6 linked regions of the Homo sapiens genome follow. The protein of the gene in region 1 interacts with the protein of each later gene in a biochemical or structural test. Each region holds a gene or a part of one and is shown in the gene's direction. Other genes may lie near its edges. The genes, in order: MYOG, MEF2A, CSRP3, FBXO7, MEF2C and SP1.

What was found.
Region 2: the proteins of MYOG (region 1) and MEF2A form a complex in vitro, tested with the Homo sapiens proteins (one study listed by BioGRID).
Region 3: the proteins of MYOG (region 1) and CSRP3 form a complex in vitro, tested with the Homo sapiens proteins (2 studies listed by BioGRID and IntAct, with this or other methods).
Region 4: of the proteins of MYOG (region 1) and FBXO7, one has a biochemical effect on the other in vitro, tested with the Homo sapiens proteins (one large-scale study listed by BioGRID).
Region 5: the proteins of MYOG (region 1) and MEF2C form a complex in vitro, tested with the Homo sapiens proteins (one study listed by BioGRID).
Region 6: the proteins of MYOG (region 1) and SP1 form a complex in vitro, tested with the Homo sapiens proteins (one study listed by BioGRID).

What each region holds. Positions count from the first base shown.
Region 1 is NC_000001.11:203,083,213-203,087,424, reverse strand, and holds the start of MYOG (myogenin), read left to right. Parts: upstream 1-1,412; 5' UTR 1,413-1,463; coding exon 1,464-1,934; intron 1,935-2,696; coding exon 2,697-2,778; intron 2,779-2,851; exon of another isoform or gene 2,852-3,053; intron 3,054-3,393; coding exon 3,394-3,515; 3' UTR 3,516-4,212. UniProt on the Homo sapiens protein: Acts as a transcriptional activator that promotes transcription of muscle-specific target genes and plays a role in muscle differentiation, cell cycle exit and muscle atrophy.
Region 2 is NC_000015.10:99,568,984-99,572,483, forward strand, and holds part of MEF2A (myocyte-specific enhancer factor 2A), read left to right. Parts: intron 1-3,500. UniProt on the Homo sapiens protein: Transcriptional activator which binds specifically to the MEF2 element, 5'-YTA[AT](4)TAR-3', found in numerous muscle-specific genes. Also involved in the activation of numerous growth factor- and stress-induced genes.
Region 3 is NC_000011.10:19,184,984-19,188,483, reverse strand, and holds part of CSRP3 (cysteine and glycine-rich protein 3), read left to right. Parts: intron 1-179; coding exon 180-348; intron 349-2,135; coding exon 2,136-2,268; intron 2,269-3,438; coding exon 3,439-3,500. UniProt on the Homo sapiens protein: Positive regulator of myogenesis. Acts as a cofactor for myogenic bHLH transcription factors such as MYOD1, and probably MYOG and MYF6.
Region 4 is NC_000022.11:32,491,811-32,495,310, forward strand, and holds part of FBXO7 (F-box only protein 7), read left to right. Parts: intron 1-1,294; coding exon 1,295-1,471; intron 1,472-3,500. UniProt on the Homo sapiens protein: Substrate recognition component of a SCF (SKP1-CUL1-F-box protein) E3 ubiquitin-protein ligase complex which mediates the ubiquitination and subsequent proteasomal degradation of target proteins and plays a role in several biological processes such as cell cycle, cell proliferation, or maintenance of chromosome stability.
Region 5 is NC_000005.10:88,716,617-88,719,184, reverse strand, and holds the end of MEF2C (myocyte-specific enhancer factor 2C), read left to right. Parts: 3' UTR 1-2,068; downstream 2,069-2,568. UniProt on the Homo sapiens protein: Transcription activator which binds specifically to the MEF2 element present in the regulatory regions of many muscle-specific genes. Controls cardiac morphogenesis and myogenesis, and is also involved in vascular development.
Region 6 is NC_000012.12:53,407,676-53,411,175, forward strand, and holds part of SP1 (transcription factor Sp1), read left to right. Parts: intron 1-1,686; coding exon 1,687-1,886; intron 1,887-3,251; coding exon 3,252-3,500. UniProt on the Homo sapiens protein: Transcription factor that can activate or repress transcription in response to physiological and pathological stimuli.

The sequences.
Region 1 (4,212 bases):
AGATTGCAGCCCAAAGCTACACGTCAATGGAACGGGCTGTCTCCTGACGTGAGCAGAAGCTGAACAGTAGCCGCCTCGGAGGAGATTTGGGCATCAGGGGCTAGGTAGAAAGAGGTGATCACCGTTGTCTATCAGATGGTAAGTTCGAGGGCAGGGATCCTGTCTGGGGTGTCCCTATAATCCCCAGCCCTAAGACTGAGCCTTGTTCACTGCTAGTGTCTAAGGTCTGCCCACTGCATTGGAAGGAATTTGTCCTCTCAGACCCTGAGGCACCTACTGAGAGGTGACCATGGCCTGAGAGGCCTGAAGATTAAATAGTCCCTGCTCTACCTGACATTTGAGACCTGCATGATACGTGTAAAATTGATGGCTCAGACAGTAAGAGGCAGAACAACCAAGCCCGGTGGCCAAGGAGAGAGGAGATTTAAACTGAGTTTGAAGGGCTCTGTTTTTTCTACTTTTTCACCCCCGTCCACATTAATGAGCCAGGAAAATTCTGGTGTTGGAAAAAGAGTTGAGGAGGTAACATAGAAGGACAGATCAATGGTCCGGAGTGAGACAGGGAGGAGACAGGGAGCTTAGGACATCTTGACCTTGCCGCTCTGGGGAAGGTGGCAACGTGTAGGCTGTAAATTCTAATCTCTGCTCTGACCACGGCTGCTGTATTAAAGAGGAAATTTCTCTTTACCCCTGCCAAGAAAACCAAAACCCAAATAATTTCTCTTGCCTCAATTTACCCCCCCAGATGAGACCTAAGAGAACATACAGCTCAAAGCTGCTTGGGAACCCCAAAAGTGGAATCTGTTAGCTGCTCTGAGTCTTGATCCTTCTTATCCCTGGATACTGAGTGCCCATGAATGCCCAGAATCTGAAGCAGTCCCATTCTTTCCGGAGGGAAGTCTTTAAAAGAGTCTCATCGACTGATGTAGTGTGGTTAAGGTGCTGTCAGGAAGCAAGGAGATGGATAAGTTGGCTCTTAAGGCCCCTTCCAGCCTAAGCCTACCCTTCCTTGTTCCCTCCTCCCCCTATACCCACCAGCTTCTTCGGGACTGCAAGGAGACAGCAGGCAGGCCGCCCAGCTAGGAGTAATTGAAAGGAGCAGATGAGAGGGGAATGTGTCCTCCCCCAACGCCCCTGCCCCACAGGGGCTGCTGAGAAATGAAAACTAATCAAATTACACCCGACGGCCTCCCGACCCGTGCACAGGAGCCCGCCTGGGCCAGGGGCAGGCTGGCAGGGTGGGGTGGGGGCCATGCGGGAGAAAGAAGGGGAATCACATCTAATCCACTGTAAACGCCTTGATGTGCAGCAACAGCTTAGAGGGGGCTCAGGTTTCTGTGGCGTTGGCTATATTTATCTCTGGTTCCATGCCAGCGGGGAGGGTTTAAATGGCACCCAGCAGTTGGCGTGAGGGGCTGCTGGAGCTTGGGGGCTGGTGGCAGGAACAAGCCTTTTCCGACCCCATGGAGCTGTATGAGACATCCCCCTACTTCTACCAGGAACCCCGCTTCTATGATGGGGAAAACTACCTGCCTGTCCACCTCCAGGGCTTCGAACCACCAGGCTACGAGCGGACGGAGCTCACCCTGAGCCCCGAGGCCCCAGGGCCCCTTGAGGACAAGGGGCTGGGGACCCCCGAGCACTGTCCAGGCCAGTGCCTGCCGTGGGCGTGTAAGGTGTGTAAGAGGAAGTCGGTGTCCGTGGACCGGCGGCGGGCGGCCACACTGAGGGAGAAGCGCAGGCTCAAGAAGGTGAATGAGGCCTTCGAGGCCCTGAAGAGAAGCACCCTGCTCAACCCCAACCAGCGGCTGCCCAAGGTGGAGATCCTGCGCAGTGCCATCCAGTACATCGAGCGCCTCCAGGCCCTGCTCAGCTCCCTCAACCAGGAGGAGCGTGACCTCCGCTACCGGGGCGGGGGCGGGCCCCAGCCAGGGGTAAGTGGCCATCCCATCCCCCTGCCCCAAGGGGACGGGGCCAGAGGGAGGCACCTGGACAGCCTCAAGACCCCAAGAGGGGCTCAGAGGGTTGGTGCAGGTGCCAGACAGGGTCGAGGGGCTGCAGGAGCCCTTCCCTGGTCAGAGCTGGGCTATCCAGCTGACCTCCTGTGTCCTGTGTTCTTTCCAGACAAGATAAAGGCAGTGGGGAGGAAGTGCAGAAGGGGTTGGGGTGGGGAACATAGGACTGAAGAAAGATCAGGAGCAAGGCCACAGTCAGCCCAGGTGAGGGTGAGGATTAATCCCAGCGCCTGAGTCAGAGCCTAAAAGGCCAGGCCAAGTTCACCAGAGAAGACTGCTTTGCCCCCATCCTGGGTGTGGCTGAGCAGAGAGAAAACCCACTCAGTCTCATTGGAACTCCAGCAGGCCTGCACAGAGCGACCTTCACTGGGCCACAAAATCTGTCTCCATCACCCTTATCGCCAGAGTCAGGAGAACCAGGGACCCCTTTAAGCTGGTGTCCTGTGAGAGCAGAACCACCACCCAGGATGGAAGCCAGGAAGGCCTGGAAGCAGGGCCTCTGGGGTGTGAGAGGAGCTAGTTACAAAGATTCTGGGGTTGGGGATGGCCTGGGCTGGAAGGCCACAGCCTGTGGCCCACCCTCCAACCCCACCACAGGTACTTCTGCCCACTGGGACTAGGCAGAGAGAGACATCAAAGAATGGCTGTGCCCCGACCTTGGGCCTTCGCCCTGTCTTGCAGGTGCCCAGCGAATGCAGCTCTCACAGCGCCTCCTGCAGTCCAGAGTGGGGCAGTGCACTGGAGTTCAGCGCCAACCCAGGGGGTAAGTAAGGCCTGACTGGTAACCTTGGCTCCAATCCCTCAGTCCCTCCCTGGGCCAGGTTCTCCCCTCTTACCTTATTCCTTGCTCCGGTCCTCTTCCCTTGGGTCTCTCTAGGGACCTGCTGACTCCAAGGCCCAAAGGGTGGGCTGGGAGGTTCTGTGTGCCCCTGCAGTCTTGACCAGCAAAGGAGTGATAGTAGCTCCTGCAGCTCCCCAGCTGATGCCTGGTGGTTGACCTTCTCCACAGAGAGGACAATGTCCCTGCCCCAGGGGTCCCTGTGAAGTGCTGAGTCAGTGCTGCAAAACTGGGCCGAGCAAAGGGCAGGTCCAGTCTCTGGGGAGCTCCATCCTGCTCCAACTTGAGTGGCTGCTTCCAAACCCTACCTACTAGGGGAGTTCAGAAAAGAGGCGCATACACACACACACACACACACACACACACACACACACACTCACAGAGCATGGGGAAAGGCAGGGACTAGGGAGTAGAACTCCGGAGCTTTGTCATTCATCTGTCCTGGAAAACCTCTGTCACCCCAAGGGTCCCATCCTCTATTCTGGGCCTCAAGAACCCCCACTGCTCACCCAGGTACCACCTTCCCACCTCCCCTTACAGATCATCTGCTCACGGCTGACCCTACAGATGCCCACAACCTGCACTCCCTCACCTCCATCGTGGACAGCATCACAGTGGAAGATGTGTCTGTGGCCTTCCCAGATGAAACCATGCCCAACTGAGATTGTCTTCCAAGCCGGGCATCCTTGCGAGCCCCCCAAGCTGGCCACAGATGCCACTACTTCTGTAGCAGGGGCCTCCTAAGCCAGGCTGCCCTGATGCTAGGAAGCCAGCTCTGGGGTGCCATAGGCCAGACTATCCCCTTCCTCATCCATGTAAGGTTAACCCACCCCCCAGCAAGGGACTGGACGCCCTCATTCAGCTGCCTCCTTAGAGGAGAGGGCATCCCCTTTCCAGGGAGGTAAAGCAGGGGACCAGAGCGCCCCCTCGTGTATGCCCCAGCTCAGGGGGCAAACTCAGGAGCTTCCTTTTTATCATAACGCGGCCTCTAATTCCACCCCCCAAGTGAAACGGTTTGAGAGACGCAGTGCCCTGACCTGGACAAGCTGTGCACGTCTCCTGTTCTGGTCTCTTCCCGATGCCAGTGGCTGGGCTGGGCCTGCCCTGAATTGAGAGAGAAGAAGGGGAGAGGAACAGCCCTCTGTTCCCAAGTCCCTGGGGGGCCAAACTTTTGCAGTGAATATTGGGAACCTTCCAGTGGTTTTATGTTTTGTTTTGTTTCGTGTGTTGTTTGTAAAGCTGCCATCCGACCAAGGTCTCCTGTGCTGAAGTTGCCGGGGACAGGCAGGGAAAAGGGGTTGGGGCCTCTTGGGGGTGATTTCTTTTGTTAACAAAGCATTGTGTGGTTTTGCCATTGTT
Region 2 (3,500 bases), on another chromosome or scaffold:
GTGCCTTCTCTCCTAATGTTTAAATAATAAGTGTAAATATGGAAATCAGATCACCCTTTAAGCTGGATAACCTCGTGCAAGAGAATGCTTTTAACATATGCTGATTTGCAAGCCCCAGTAAAGGAAGGCTGCTTGACTCTGTAGTCAGATCTTGATTCAGATCCAGCTCCACTGCTGACAGAGTTGAGATATCTCCTGTAAAATGAGATAGAATTACACTACCTGCCCCGTGTTGGAATTAAATGAGATAGCGAGTGTAAAAGTTCTAACACACTGCGTGAAGCTTCATGTGCGAAAATGCGTATTGCCTGATCTCCCTGCATCCCTTCTGGCTTTTGTTTCTTCTTTCCTCTGAAGATTATGTAGGTACCCTGCCCAGTACCCATACGTTTAGTGTTTGTGACCAAAAGGATTTCGTATAATGTATCAATAGAGAATGCTTAATGTGTTTGTTTTGGATAAAATATCCCAGCATCTTAAATTCATTGTCAGATTATACATAAAACGCTTAATTGGCTGTTTTAAAACATTAGAATTTTGATCTTCAACCATAGTTTGTTTCTAATCTCCATAATCTCCCCAAATATTTTTCTAAAGATTCAAGTTAAATATAAATAGTTTCCCAATCTTCAGTGAATTCTGTCTTTTAGGGATTGACTGTGGGAGTGGTCTCTAAGATATAGTATTTGAAATTTAAAGTTAGAAGAATACTTCTGTAATCTACCTTGAATAGGTATTTTAAAATAGCTTAATTTCTGAAGAAAAGTTTTTAAATATTTTAATATTGAAGGTTATTTTAATATTTTAAAGTAACTTTAGTTAATCTGTAATTTTTAAAATACTTTGATTTGGTGTGAAATTAATGATTTTCTCGTGTATAGTTTATCTGTGTGCCTTATAATAAATGGACCTTGTGTCCAGTTTATTATAATTAAGAGTGTAAATCCATTTGTTAATTAGTAAATCTTACACATAGCACACGATATAGGTTGGTACTTATTTAATAAGTACTAAATTTTTATATAGATGCTTTATACTTTAATAATATTTATATTTACAGAATTTAATTGATATTTACTGAATTTAATATTTTAATTATTAATTATCTTAGTCGAGATGAAATCATAAGCATATGAGTTAAAAATATTAGCTCCTTTGTGAGGTGGAATACCATATTTAAACATTGGTGTATGAAGGCAGGTAATTTACTTCATCATTATTTTAACAAGTGATGTTGATAAAAGCCAGAGGAACAAACATGGGTGAAAAACATATTAATTAATCAAACTTCTAGTAAATACCAACCCGGGCATGTCTTTTTATGGTTGTCTTGAATTAATACTAATTTTACTTCCTTACACAAAAATACAAACTTCAAAAACAAAATAAACAAGAAAACATGAAAACATAAAAAGGAAACAAAGCAAAAACAAAACAAAAACCTTTAATATATGGACTTAAAAAAATTCTCACCATTATTAAAATTATATGCTTGAGAAAGGTTTTCAGTAGTGGTCAGTAAGTTTATACTGCATGAGCTGGACATTTTTACTTTGTTACTTGCGTGACCAGCAGCATGCATGTGCAGGTTGACGTGGATTCATTTGAGGCATGATTTGTGACACTTGGAACAAAGGGCTGCTTCCCATTCGACCTGGTAAAAGAAATTGTAACTTTTGGGCTTAATAAAACAAGCGGCTCTTGCATTGACTAATACTATATTTGCCTGTTTCACCTCTCGTCCTCATCCTTAGCTGTCCATCTTCTACATAGAAATTGGAATTATATTTCTAAAATTCAGATCTATATGTCATTTCTTCTTAAAGAAAAAAAAAAAAACAACTTTTGAAGGCGTATGAGATCAATAGAGTGGCAGTAATGTAAGGGATAGAAGATTGGCCTGTAAAATCAGACTTCCTGGCTGGGCGCGGTGGCTCATGCCTGTAATTCCAGAACTTTGGGAGGTGGAGGCGGGCAGATCACCTGAGGTCGGGAGTTTGAGACCAACCTGGCCAACGTGGTGAAACCCCGTTTCCACTAAAAATACAAAAATTAGCCGGGCATAGTGGCTCACACCTGTTATCCCGCCACTCTGGAGGCTTAGGCACGAGAATCGCTTGAACCCAGGAGGCAGAGGTTGCAGTGAGCCGAGATCGTGCCACTGCACTCCAGCCTGGGTGATAGAATGAGACTCCATCTCCAAAAAAAAAAAAACAACAACAACAACAACAGACTTCCCATCCTAAGTTAAAATACCCACTGTTCTTACTGTGTTCTTATTTAGTTACTTGCACTTTGTGTTCTTCAGCAAGTTCTTATGATTTTTGAGGCTTAGTGTATAAAATAGTAATTATAACATTATTTCATACAGTTTTTGAGAGGATTAAATGAGGTGTGTATTATAAAGTGCAGTGCCTGGTATATAACCTGCATTAATTTTCCTCCTACCATTACTATCGTTACTACTACTGCTATTGCTGTTAGTCATGGCTCACTTTATAATATGATTCCATCGTGTCTTTTGAGGCTCATTTTCAGCCATCACCTTTCAGTTTCTATGCCCTAGTCAAAGCCAGCTATTAGCGCTAATCTGAAAAGGCCATATGTTTTCATACTGATGACTACTACTTTTATTTTCCCAGCCCAGACTTCTCTTGAGTTTGATATTCACTTGGAAGTCTAGTTGGAATCTCAAGTATAATATAAATGATGTGGGTAAAATATAGCTATTTTTCCCTCTTCCCCCAACCTTCTTCCTACCCCTAAACCCTGGTGTCTCTGCTGGCATTCCCCATATCCATAAATGGCAGTACCCAAGCCAAAAACTTAAGATATTATTCTTGATTCTTTCCATTTCTCTTAAGTCCAATCCATCCCCACGTCCTGTTGCACCTTCACAATTTGCCTTGAGCAGTCCACTGCTCTTAGTCTTCGTTGCCACCTCTTTATTTGAAGCCATCATTCTCTTGCATGAAGTACTGCAGTAATTTTCTAAGTGGGCTGCTTCTTTTTCTTCTTGCTCCATAGAAGTTTTTTTTTTTTTTTTTTTCTTCACACAGCAGCCTGAGAATTATTTTAAGAGCCTATATTGGATCATATCATTTCTCTGCTTAAAATCTTCTGGTGACTTCCCATTCCTCTCAAAATCAAGTCCTCCATTCTGTGGCCTAAATGGCCCTGAATGAGCTTTCTCCTTCTCATCATTCTTCCCCTCATTCATCACATGTCAGCCACGAAGGCCTCTCAGTGTTTCTTAAACCCTCTGCACCCTTTTTTCTTCTAGGGCCTTTTGCACTTTCTGTACTCCCTCCTTGGGATATTCTTCAAATGTCTGGCTTGGCTAAACACTTTGGAGTTTGGCCCAAATCTCACTTCTCACTCAGAGGCCTAATCTGACCATCCTATTTAATATTGCAGTCTGTCATTTTACTCTCTTACACAGATTATTTCCTTCAAGACAATTGTAATTTGTGTATACCTGGTTTGTTTAGTTATTGCTT
Region 3 (3,500 bases), on another chromosome or scaffold:
GATCGGGACTGTCTTGGAGTGCACAACTCAGGGCAGATACTCTGGTCAGGAATCAACATTGTATTCTTGGCTCAGGGGCCCCTCATGCTGGGTCTCTGGCCCCGAGCATGGCATTGGGAGTGCAAAGAAGGGGAGAAGGATTTCAATTCCAATCCCATGACCCTTCCTTTTCCTGGCAGTGGCCTGCAGGAAGGCTCTTGACAGCACGACAGTCGCGGCTCATGAGTCGGAGATCTACTGCAAGGTGTGCTATGGGCGCAGATATGGCCCCAAAGGGATCGGGTATGGACAAGGCGCTGGCTGTCTCAGCACAGACACGGGCGAGCATCTCGGCCTGCAGTTCCAACAGTGAGTTACTGCCCTGCTCCCCCTTGCCTGTTAAAGTCTCCAATTATCAGGACAGTTCATTTCGTTCCCATAGCAACGTTTTCTGGAAGTGGGAGAATGGACTCTATTGTTGACTTGCCAACAATAGGAATACTCAGTCTGACCAAGTTTGAACAATGTGTCATCTCTCCAAAGACTCTCTTTAAATTATTTGCCATTCTAAAGGGCAATTACTTTTACACCATGGCTCTTGGTTTGCATGTCAAGAGAAAACCCAGGATGTACAGATGTTCCATTGTTTGACCTTTGCAAAACTGCATGGAGTCTCCTTTCTTCCCCGTTGAGAGTTTCTGTGTAAATCACACAAATATGGCAGGGCAGCAATGGCCATTCTTTGTGTGCCTGTCATGAAAAGATTTCTTCCCTTGGATTGTAAGATGACAAACGTCCACATGGCAGGGGGAGTGTGTCTGCAAGGATGGGCTGTGCCTCAGAGTAAACAATCAATCATGATTTTTCTGGGGGTTCCCTGGCTGCCTGTTGCCAATACAGTGCTAGAGTTCCCGCCACATTATCCTAGGGAAGCTGGGACATCACTCTGGCCACCTCCATCCACCAGTCTGGTCCCCTGGGTCCACTTTCTTGATAACCACATTGACCTCCAGCCCAGAATTGAGGAAAGTCTGATGGCCACTGGCCTGACACTACTCTCTGGCCAGCTGGCCTCCAGGCTGAGCTCTGCACTGCGACTGGCCAGAAAGGCCCAGCCCAACCAAGGAAGTGTCCCATGGAGGGCCTCCCCCAGAGAGCACTTCAGCCATCTGAGGAATCAGCTGATCCCTTCAAAAGAGAGTAAGCCACAGGAGAGCATGGAAACGTGGAGAGATGTGTGATTAGTCATCTTAGAGAGAAGACTTCTTTTTGTTAGTTTGTCTTATTACTCAATCTCAAATGGAGACTCTTGTTAAGGAAGAAAACATACCACTGCATTCTCTGCCTCACATTGACTGAAGTTCACTTTTCAACATTAGGGCTTCCTAGTGATGCTGCACAAAGAGTAACAAGGTCTGAAGACCTAGGATTTCCTCCTAGGTCCATCATTCATGAGCTGCCTGGCCTTGGGCAGTCACACTCTGATCCTCACTCTCCTCCAACCAGCCCTGCCTACCTTATAGGGTTGTGGTACAGCTCAAGTGATATAATATACAAGCAAACACCAAAAGATACCAACACATGAGAGGCTATTATTATGTCTCTATTTTGGACATTGTTCTCCTGGGACAGGTGACCCTTGGAGGCAGGACGACAGCCTGGCTTGTGATAAGGAATGCATCAGCTCATGGACTGTGGTTCATCAGGAACTGATTAGCACCCATTGTCAAAATCCCACCTTGCTCTGTAATTTTCACAACTCTCTTTAGAAAGGAAAGAAGTGGCCTTGCAAATGGTCCAGAAAAACACAAATAAGCACAGTAGTAATAACAACACAACAACAACAATAACACAAGCTAACATAACTAGAACATTTGCTAAGTGCTTCACAACAAAAAGGAAAGCTCTAAACCCATTTTAGCAAACATTTATTAGCCCTTACTACATGCCAGGCGGGCACTGTTCTAAGTGCTTTACAAATGTCGCCTCATTTAACCCTCTCAACAACGCTATGAGAAAGACACCATCATTATCCCCATTTTCCAGATGAGGAGTCTGAGACACACGGAAGTGAGGTCACTTTCTCAAGGCCACACAGCTCTTCTACTCTTTGCCAAGGGAAATCTACGTTTCATTCATTCGTCTATTTCCAACAGGTCCCCAAAGCCGGCACGCTCAGTTACCACCAGCAACCCTTCCAAATTCACTGCGAAGTTTGGAGAGTCCGAGAAGTGCCCTCGATGTGGCAAGTCAGTCTATGCTGCTGAGAAGGTTATGGGAGGTGGCAAGGTAAGACCTTCTGTATGAGCCAGACAGAATTTGCTCATCTCCACCAGGCCATTTGGGAGGAATGAGAGAAAAATTGGGAGCTGCAAGCAGCTGTCATTCTCTCTAGCTCCCAGAACAACTTTAGAAACCACACATCCTCAGCCACTTTCCCAGGCTGGGGCTGTCTGTCATCTAGCATTGCCCTTTGAAAGCTGGAACTGGTGCAGTTTGAAGCAGCAAGCATTATTCTACTAGATGGAAGGCACCCAGCTGAAAGTTCTGGGATACAAAGCAAAAGCCCGTCTACCCTCCAGTGTCCACAATCCCCCCAAAAGATGTCAGCCCCAGACCAACCACTGCCTAACTCAACCTGTTGCTGCCACCATGACCAATGGATATAGCAGACGCCTCACAGTAGTGAGAAGCATCCTCACTTACGAACTTCCTGGCTCTCAGGAAAGTCATCAGATGTCCGAGACACTCATGCATATGTGCTCTGCAAGTTCCAGTTTCAGGCCCAAAGCCTGGGTACTCACCAAAGGAGTCAGACCTGAGGAAAGAGAAAAATTATGTTTATACCACATGGTGGGAGGAAGGGCCGTGGGGAGCATCTAACTTCAAACACAAGGGCAGGCTCCACCCTAAAACTGGCCATTTGAAGACATAGGAGAAGCCCTGGGCTGTACCTGGTAGACACGCAGATGTGCAGGAGGATGGAGATCTAGAACATCGAAATTATGCAACTCTGCCTCAGAATTACACAGAGGAATTAAACCAGAGAGTTAAAACAAGGTTGAATTCCCTGAACAATTGCCTGATTTCTTTATTTTTTTTCCTTCTGTAACTTTATACTCAACATAAACATCACCCAGTGCCCCCAGCCCAAGTCCTTCTCTGACCAGTTTGTTCCTTGGATCTTTTTGGCCTGGGGAAGCCCTTTCCCGTTTAGTCTATTCTGAAGGAAAACATATGCAAATCACCATGACAAATCCATTTTCAGGCTTCTGAGAAGTGCTGGCTAAGGCCATAGCATCTCATTTTCTCCAAACCCCTGGAGAAATTATGGGGCCCATTAGGTAAGCAAATGGTTAAGACGTGTCACTCCTCTGGATGCTGCTGGTCAGGGACTTGAAATGGAAACAGAATGTGTTGCCTACCTCATTAAATATGCAACTTTTCTGTGCCCCTCAGCCTTGGCACAAGACCTGTTTCCGCTGTGCCATCTGTGGGAAGAGTCTGGAGTCCACAAATGT
Region 4 (3,500 bases), on another chromosome or scaffold:
ACTCGAGATCCTTATATTAGCTTCTCATTTTTTTGCAGTTAAAAAAATTAAAATCTCAGTGTCTTACAGTGAAATTTACTTCTCACTCGTGTACATGTTGTGTGTGGGTTTGCTTTGGCTGAAGGAGTTGTCTTTATCCAGGACATGCTCCTCTTGTAGTAGAAGGAAAGGAGTGCCAGTGGCCCAATTATGTGTTGGTTCAACGCTTTTGCCCAGAAATTATATATGTCACTTCCACTCACGTTTTGTCAGAAAAAATAAGACAAAAATGGCCAAGCCTGATGGTGGTGGGATGGGGAAGTATAATTATGCGTAGGAAGTGATTGAGAACCATAATACAATCTACCACAATTCTCCAACTAGTAGGTAGTTTGACTTATATGAATAGATAGTGGCTTTTATTTGCTCTCTATATGTAGAGAAATAAGTAAAACGTTTTTGGTGTCAAGTTGAATGGTGGCATGTCTATTATTACAGTAGTCTTCTCTGTAGTTGGTGATAAGGGAAAGGGAGTAATGCCAATTGAAAAACATGTAGATATGTCTGTTGGATTTTGATTATTTTTGCTAGTGGAGAATAGTATCACAAATATTTTGAAGGTGCTAATAACCAAAACATAATTTTCATTGAACTTGGGACATATTATTTTTCCTTTCCTTTCTTGGCTTTGTTTCTGAATTTATCTATCTCTTTTTAGCCTGCTAGACTTCAGATAATAGTAATTTGCTAACACTTGAGTGCTTATGCTTGGTGTGCCAAACATTGTTCTAAGCACTTAATATGTGTTAATACATTTACTTCTCACAACTCATTGAAGTAGGTGGAATGTAATATTAATCCATTTTACAGATGAAATTAAGATAGCATTTAAATAACTTGTCCAAAGGCACACAGTTAATAACTGGCATGGAAACAGATATAAAAGCCAGTGAATTATTCATTTTCTGTAGTTGAATGAAGAAATTTTGTTGTATTGAATAATGTTTGAGACAGAAGAGACCATTGGCTAGTATTTAGCAATTATCATAGTTATTTGATTTATATTAAAAAGCATTTGTCTTTCCACTAAAACATAAAGGGAATAAGGGCCTAGAGTTATATGAGTTAATAGTAATTATAGTCAAGCTGGGGTTAAAAATTTGTTGTAGATGATGCATACTTGGGGATAATTAAGAGTACCATCTAATTTTCTGTCACTTTAGAAAGGAACAAGTGGCAACTTTGTTGACTATGTGGAGAAAGCCAGATGTTCTTTACTCAGTAATACCTGTTACTTCTCTTTTTTTCCTTTTAGCACTGAACCTACCAGATGTATTTGGGTTGGTCGTCCTCCCATTGGAACTGAAACTACGGATCTTCCGACTTCTGGATGTTCGTTCCGTCTTGTCTTTGTCTGCGGTTTGTCGTGACCTCTTTACTGCTTCAAATGACCCACTCCTGTGGAGGTTTTTATATCTGCGTGATTTTCGAGGTGATTTCCGTAATGACATATTCACAAGAAAGGGCTCTTATTGTCTTGATTACTCAGCTCACCAAAAGTTTTTAGTTGTAGGATTTTTCTGTTGCAAATGATTACAATAAATAGCCTTAAAGAGACTGACTCTAAGCTTCATATACCTGTGCCTGTGTCCCTAAAACTCTCTCATTTTTGTGTTTTGCACAACACAAATCACTCATTAGACTAAGAAGATTATTTCAGGATAGAGAAATGGAAGTAAAACAGGCTTATTTTCTCACTAGAGACCATAGTCAGTATCTGACGTAGAAACGAGCTGGCATTTCTGAACTGCTTTCATGGTTGAGACCAATGTGTAAGTTAGGAGAGTTTTGTTGACCTGTTCCAAGTTGCTAGGGTAGCTTTATTTCTGTATGGTCACATTATGGTGACCTGGTAATTATTTTGGCAGTGATGATGGTAGAACTTGTGCATCAGGATTTCCTGCTACAAGGCCAAAAGCCTGATTGTGGAACTTTTTTTTCTGCTACCACCATTTTACTACATATTAGTGTTTTCAGAATGTTTGACCCTGGGGTGGGTCATGAAATCCATTTAATGGGTCATGTTACAAAAAAACAAAACCCACAATGGAAAAATCCATATTTATTTTATAAATAGTATTCCTATTTATAAAATAGGAGTAAACTTCTATTTCAATTATGTATAGGTAGGTGTATACTGTGTTGCAATGTAAAATTTTTATGTGGTTCACATAAATGTTTGAATGATACTGCTATATGTGATGTTAACACATACCACCTTAGTAACTGTAAAAATGTGGTGGGTAGATAGCTCCCTTAAAAAAAAAAAAAAAAAAAAGAATATCATGTAGAGTCATTTGGATTGCTAAAATTTTTTTTTCTTTTAAAATTTCAAAATGTGAGAAGTGTAAATGACCTGGTTTGTTCCTTTTCTTCTTCTTTGATTCCTGAGGTCCTCTTTCTGCTTTATTTATGCCCCTGAATTTGACATTTAAAATGTTATTTTGTCACAATTGGCAGCAAGAAAGCATCATCTCAAAAAATAATTCAATTTTATTTATTTGTGTATTTTTGAGACAGGGTCTAGTTGTGTTGCCCTGGAGTGCAGTGGCGCAGTCATAGCTCACTGCCACCCCCAACTCCTGGGCTCAAGTGATCCTCCCTCCTCAGCCTCATAAGTAGCTGAGAACTGTAGGCATGCGCCCCCACACCTGGCCAATTTTTGTTTGTTTGTTTGTTTGTTTTTAGTGGAGACAAAGTCTTGCAGTGTTGCTCAGGCTGGTCTCCAACTCAAAAAAGAATTGAAAATATAGTAAAAAAAGAAAAGACAGAATGACTGATGTATATGGAAGCACCGAGAAAAAGCAGAGTATGATATAAATACTTATAAAAGCAACAAATACCCTTTCACTTGTATATTCAAGTTTAGGATTAAAGCACAATTATTCTTTAATTTTTAGATTGTGGCCCACAAGCTCATTTGTAAGCTGTTCAGATTTTTCTGTAGATAAAATGTTACGGAGCTAGAGCTTTTATAAATCTTACTTCCATGCTAATGTAGTAACTTGTAGAGAAGATATCATCTTTTATTCAAACTCTTTTGTATACTTAAAGTTGAATGGGTTTCTCTTTCCTCATTTCACATATTTCAAATAAATAAGTACATTAAAAAATACTTAGTTATGGTCATGCTTCTGATAGCCGAGTCATTCAGGACATCGTTGGGAGAAAGTAGTGTAACCAGAATATGGATGAAAGCCTAAGTCAGCTTGACCTCCAGTAATGAACGTGGGCTGTAACACAGAAGCTCAGAGGTTGTTGCCCAGTTTGGTGTAACGTGAGATGTTGGATTAGAAGCAGGTGACACACCTAAATGAGATTAGGGGGAGAAGAGGTAGTGTAGGACCAGTTAATGCAGGAAGAGAGTAGCCACATGTTCCTCCATAGTCCCTGAGGAATCACACTGCATTGAATTACCATGTAGCACAGAGCAGCAATGATCACCCTTAACCATCAATAAA
Region 5 (2,568 bases), on another chromosome or scaffold:
AGAATGTCTGCCCTCACACACTTTTATGGATTTGTTTTTCTTACATACCCATCTTTTAACTTAGAGATAGCATTTTTTGCCCTCTTTATTTTGTTGTTTGTTTCTCCAGAGAGTAAACGCTTTGTAGTTCTTTCTTTAAAAAACATTTTTTTTAAAGAAGAAGAAGCCACTTGAACCCTCAATAAAGGCTGTTGCCTAAGCATGGCATACTTCATCTGTTCTCATTTGTGCCATCTGCCGTGATGTCGTCACTTTTATGGCGTTAATTTCCTGCCACTACAGATCTTTTGAAGATTGCTGGAATACTGGTGTCTGTTAGAATGCTTCAGACTACAGATGTAATTAAAGGCTTTTCTTAATATGTTTTAACCAAAGATGTGGAGCAATCCAAGCCACATATCTTCTACATCAAATTTTTCCATTTTGGTTATTTTCATAATCTGGTATTGCATTTTGCCTTCCCTGTTCATACCTCAAATTGATTCATACCTCAGTTTAATTCAGAGAGGTCAGTTAAGTGACGGATTCTGTTGTGGTTTGAATGCAGTACCAGTGTTCTCTTCGAGCAAAGTAGACCTGGGTCACTGTAGGCATAGGACTTGGATTGCTTCAGATGGTTTGCTGTATCATTTTTCTTCTTTTTCTTTTCCTGGGGACTTGTTTCCATTAAATGAGAGTAATTAAAATCGCTTGTAAATGAGGGCATACAAGCATTTGCAACAAATATTCAAATAGAGGCTCACAGCGGCATAAGCTGGACTTTGTCGCCACTAGATGACAAGATGTTATAACTAAGTTAAACCACATCTGTGTATCTCAAGGGACTTAATTCAGCTGTCTGTAGTGAATAAAAGTGGGAAATTTTCAAAAGTTTCTCCTGCTGGAAATAAGGTATAATTTGTATTTTGCAGACAATTCAGTAAAGTTACTGGCTTTCTTAGTGATGCAGTGTCCGTGGTGCATTTTTTTAAATTAATGTTTTGCTGTTTAAATTTATTCAATTTTATTGTGTTTTTTAAAAAGCAGCTTATGCCACAAGCACAAATGAGCTTTCTCAGTTTTCAACTCAAAATATTATATGAAAAGATGGATATGTGTGTCTGTGTGGGAGGGGTGTGAATTGGATGACGGTTCTTAGGGTATTACAGAATTCAGCCAGTGGTGGAAGTCTAAGGTTCTTATTGAATGGTTCAACTTCTTTATCAAAGAAGTTCCATGAAGATCTTTGATAACCTGTTTAAATGTACAGAATTTTTCAAAAGCCACTGTGAAAAGCAGTACCATAAGTTATTTTTTAACTAAAATCTGTAGAAAGTGTTTCCAAAAGAGTTCCTTTTTTCTTCTTCGAAGTAATTTCTAAAAGTTGAAAACATAGGCTTATAAATCTGAATAAATTAGTGAATTCATACATTTTAGAGACTATCAAATATATCCATTATTAACATTCAATAATAATCTCTAAAGGGGAATGTCCTTAAAAAGATTGATAGAAAGATTAATTTAAAAACTGAAAAGGAAAACAAGACACCACCAGTTAGCCAGCTGGAGAACTTGGACTTTTGCATTAGTAGTGATATCTGCTCCAAAAAGAATGCAGTTCGAGGAAATGTTGCATGTGGCTTCAAAATAGCAGTGCTTTCTGCTTTGTTCTCTTGTATTCATTTTCAGCAAACATGTATTAAGCAATTATTATATGTAACTCATGTGGTGATTCCAGGATGAATGAAGTTGTAGCCCTTTCTCTTAGGAAACTTATAAACTAATAGGAGATAAAAGGCATTCTCAGGGAAGTCTACAAAGTGCTATGAGGGAGCCACTTTGGCCATCCTGGGGCAGAGCAGACCAGAGGCTCAGAGCATGGACACTTCCTCATCCACCCAGCAGAAGCCTTTCACTTGATTTTGAAGGTGGGCAGGATTGAGAAAGGCCCAGAAGGGGATGAGTTCAAAGCTGTTTGTGGGCATGTGACCCCTGCAGTCACATATGGCCCTAGCTTGTGTTTCGTTTAGTGTTCTGCTATCATTATCCTGATAATATCCTGATAATAAAATTATCCTTAATAATTTTATATTTGAGTTTGAATGTTGTAAGCAAAGTCCTGTAGGACAATAGAGCATGTGCCTGAACAGAAGAGATACACAGGAAAAAGTGAACTGTTTTATATTTTAGTACCTTTAACAGAGAGAACCTTTTATTTCACTTTTTCAACAAGGACTTCCACATTTTCATTCTGCACTGGGCCCTGGAATCATGACACCATCCCTGGATGTGGGCATTTCACAGGGAAGAAATAGTAGATACAAAGGTACAGAGATGGGAAAGCAAGAGACAAACTTACAGGAATTGTGGGCCTTTCTATTTACGTAAAGTGTAGCCGTGTGTAGGGGAGCAGTGAGACAAGACTGGAAGAGTTAGTTTGCCTCTGATTATATAATCGCAAATTTAAAAGAGTTAGGTTTAAGCAAGTAATTGAAAGATTTAGGAGAGAGAAAATTGTCAGAATTCAGTAAATGGTTAGATTAATGGTAGGAGTGGTGATAGATAAGGAATTGTTAAAGTTTACAGTTT
Region 6 (3,500 bases), on another chromosome or scaffold:
GCCCAGGCTGGAGTGCAGTGGCACAATCTTGGCTCACTGCAGGCTCCGCCCCCTGGGTTCACGCCATTCTCCTGCCTCAGCCTCCCTAGTAGCTGGGACTACAGGTGCCCGCCACCTCGCCCAGCTAATTTTTTGTATTTTTAGTAGAGACGGGGTTTCACCGTGTTAGCCAGGGTGGTCTCGATCTCCTGACCTTGTGATCCGCCTGCCTTGGCCTCCCAAAGTGCTGGGATTACAGGCATGAGCCATGGGGGCGCCCGGCCTTTTTTTTTTTTTAAGACAGATCTTCATCCGGGTACGGTGGCTCACGCCTGTAATCCCAGCACTTTGGGAGGCCAAGGCGGGCGGATCACCTGAGGTCAGGAGTACAAGACCAGCCTGGCCAACATGGTGAAACCCCATCTCTACTAAAAGTACAAAAATTAACCGGCGTGGTGTCAGGTGCCTGTAATCCCAGCTACTTGGGAGGTTGAGGTAGGAGAATTGCTCGAACTTGGGAGGTGGAGGTTGCAGTGAACCGAGATCGTGCCGTTACACTCTAGCCTGGGCGACAGAGTGAGACTCTGTCTCAAAAAAAAAAAAAAGAGCTTCGCTCTTGTTGCCCAGGCTGGAGTGCAACGGCACGATCTCGGCTCACTGCAACCTCCACCTCCCAGGTTCAAGCAATTCCTCTGCTTCAGCCTCCCAAGTAGCTGGGATTACAGGCATGTGCCACCACGCCTGGCTAATTTTGTATTTTTAGTAGAGATGGGGACCATGTTGATAAGACTGGTCTTGAACAATTTTTGTATTTTTTAGTACAGATGAGGTTTCGCCATGTTGGCCAGGCTGGTCTCGGATCCCTGACCTCAGGTGATCAATCCACCTGCCTCGGCCTCCAAAAGTGTTGGGATTACAGGCGTGAGCCATCACTCCCAGCCCCTAGAAACCTTTTTAAAAAAGAAGGCTTGGCCGGGTGCGGTGGCTCACGCCTGTAATCCCAGCACTTTGGGAGGCCGAGGTGGGTGGATCACAAGGTCAGGAGATCGAGACCATCCTGGCTAACATGGTGAAACCCCGTCTCTACTAAAAATACAAAAAATTAGCCGGGTGTGGTGGCGGGCACCCATAGTCCCAGCTACTCGGGAGGCTGAGGCAGGAGAATGGCGTGAACCCGGGAGGTGGAGGTTGCAGTGAGCCAAGATTGCGCTATTACACTCCAGCCTGGGCGACAGAGCGAGACTCCGTCTCAAAACAAACAAACGAACAAAAAAAAGAAGCCTTGGTCCAGTGCAGTGGCTCACGCCTGTAATCCCAGTACTTTGGGAGGCGGAGGTGGGCAGATCCATCACCTGAGCTCAGGGGTTCGAGACCAGCCTCGCCAACATTGCGAAACCTCATCTGCACTAAAAATATAAAAATTAGCTGGGCATGGTGGTGTGCACCTGTAATCCCAGCTACTCGGGAGGCTGAGGCAGGAGAATCGCTTGAACCTAGGAGGCGGAGGTTGCAGTGAGCCGTGATCATGCTACTGTACTCCAGCCTGGACGACAGAGTGAGACTCTCTCAAAAAAACAAAAAAGAAGACTTTTTCAAAAAATAAAAGTTTGGGTTAGTTTGGTGTCGATTGGGTGATTGCTGTTGATACTTTGTGGTTCTTTAGTTTTCTCTAGAATGAATGATTAACAGTTGTGTCCTCACTTTCAGGGGCTCGGGGGATCCTGGCAAAAAGAAACAGCATATTTGCCACATCCAAGGCTGTGGGAAAGTGTATGGCAAGACCTCTCACCTGCGGGCACACTTGCGCTGGCATACAGGCGAGAGGCCATTTATGTGTACCTGGTCATACTGTGGGAAACGCTTCACACGTTCGGATGAGCTACAGAGGCACAAACGTACACACACAGGTGAGCAAGAGCCTATGGGAGAGAAAAATAGTAATAGACTAGAATGAAAAACACAAAATATACCTACAAAATAACTAAAATTTCTGAGCAACTTAATTTGAAACTGAATATATGGGTCACAAATGGAATTGGAGTTAATCTGGAAAATTTTTAAGAAGGAAGGAGGGGCTGGGTGCAGTGGCTCACGCCTGTAATCCCAGCACTTTTGGAGGCCGAGGCGGGCAGATCACGAGGTCAGGAGATCGAGACCATTCTGGCTAACATGGTGAAACCCCGTCTCTACTAAATATACAAAAAAATTAGCCGGGCATGGTGGCAGGCGCCTGTAGTTGCAGCTACTCAGGAGGTGGAGGCAGGAGAGTGGCATGAACCTGGGAGGCGGAGCTTGCAATGAGCCAAGATCGTGCCACTGCACTCCAGCCTGGGCGACAGAGCGAGACACTGTCTCAAAAAAAAAGGAAGGAGCCAGGTGTCGTGGCTCATGCCTGTAATCCCAGCCCTTTGGGAGGCCGAGGTGGGTGGATTTCTTGAGGTCAGGAGTTCAAGACCAGCCTGGCCAACATGGGGAAACCCTGTCTCTACTAAAATTACAAAATAGTCAAGCGTGCTGGTGCACACCTGTAATCCCAGCTACTCAGGAGGCTGAGGCAGGAGAATTGCTTGAACCTTGGAGGCGGAGGTTACAGTGAGCTGAGATTGTGCCACTGCACTCCAGCCTAGGCGACAGAGCAAGACTCTGTCTCAAAAAAATAAAATAAAATAAAATAAGGAGCTAGATTTTGAGTGGGATTTTTGAAGGTGAAGCATTGAAACCATTACTCTTAGTCTCTGCCCTGCCTTACTTTTAAAACTGCTAAGTTCTACCTTCCTTACCGAGTACTCCCCAACCTTTATCTAGTTTTCTTCCTCACGCCCCCGCCAAAAGGAAAATATACTTGAAGTTTTTTGTTTTTTGTTTTTTTTTTGAGACAGAGTCTCTGTCGCCCAGGCTGGAGTGCAGTGGCGCGATCTCGGCTCACTGCAAGCTCCGCCTCCCGGGTCCACGCCATTCTCCTGCCTCAGCCTCTCCGAGTAGCTGGGACTACAGGCGCCCGCCACCACGCCCGGCTAATTTTTTGTATTTTTAGTAGAGACAGGGTTTCACCGTGGTCTTGATCTCCTGACCTCGTGATCTGCCCGCCTTGGCCTCCCAAAGTGCTGGGATTACAAGCGTGAGCCACCACGCCCAGCCACTTGAAGATTTTTCTTGTTTTTGATCACCTTCTCATACTGGCCTTACTCAGCTTAGTAGAGTAAGCACTGAATTGGGTAAGGTAACCTCACTTCCTAACATGTCAGCTTCTTATCTTTTCTTCCTTTACCTAGGTGAGAAGAAATTTGCCTGCCCTGAGTGTCCTAAGCGCTTCATGAGGAGTGACCACCTGTCAAAACATATCAAGACCCACCAGAATAAGAAGGGAGGCCCAGGTGTAGCTCTGAGTGTGGGCACTTTGCCCCTGGACAGTGGGGCAGGTTCAGAAGGCAGTGGCACTGCCACTCCTTCAGCCCTTATTACCACCAATATGGTAGCCATGGAGGCCATCTGTCCAGAGGGCATTGCCCGTCTTGCCAACA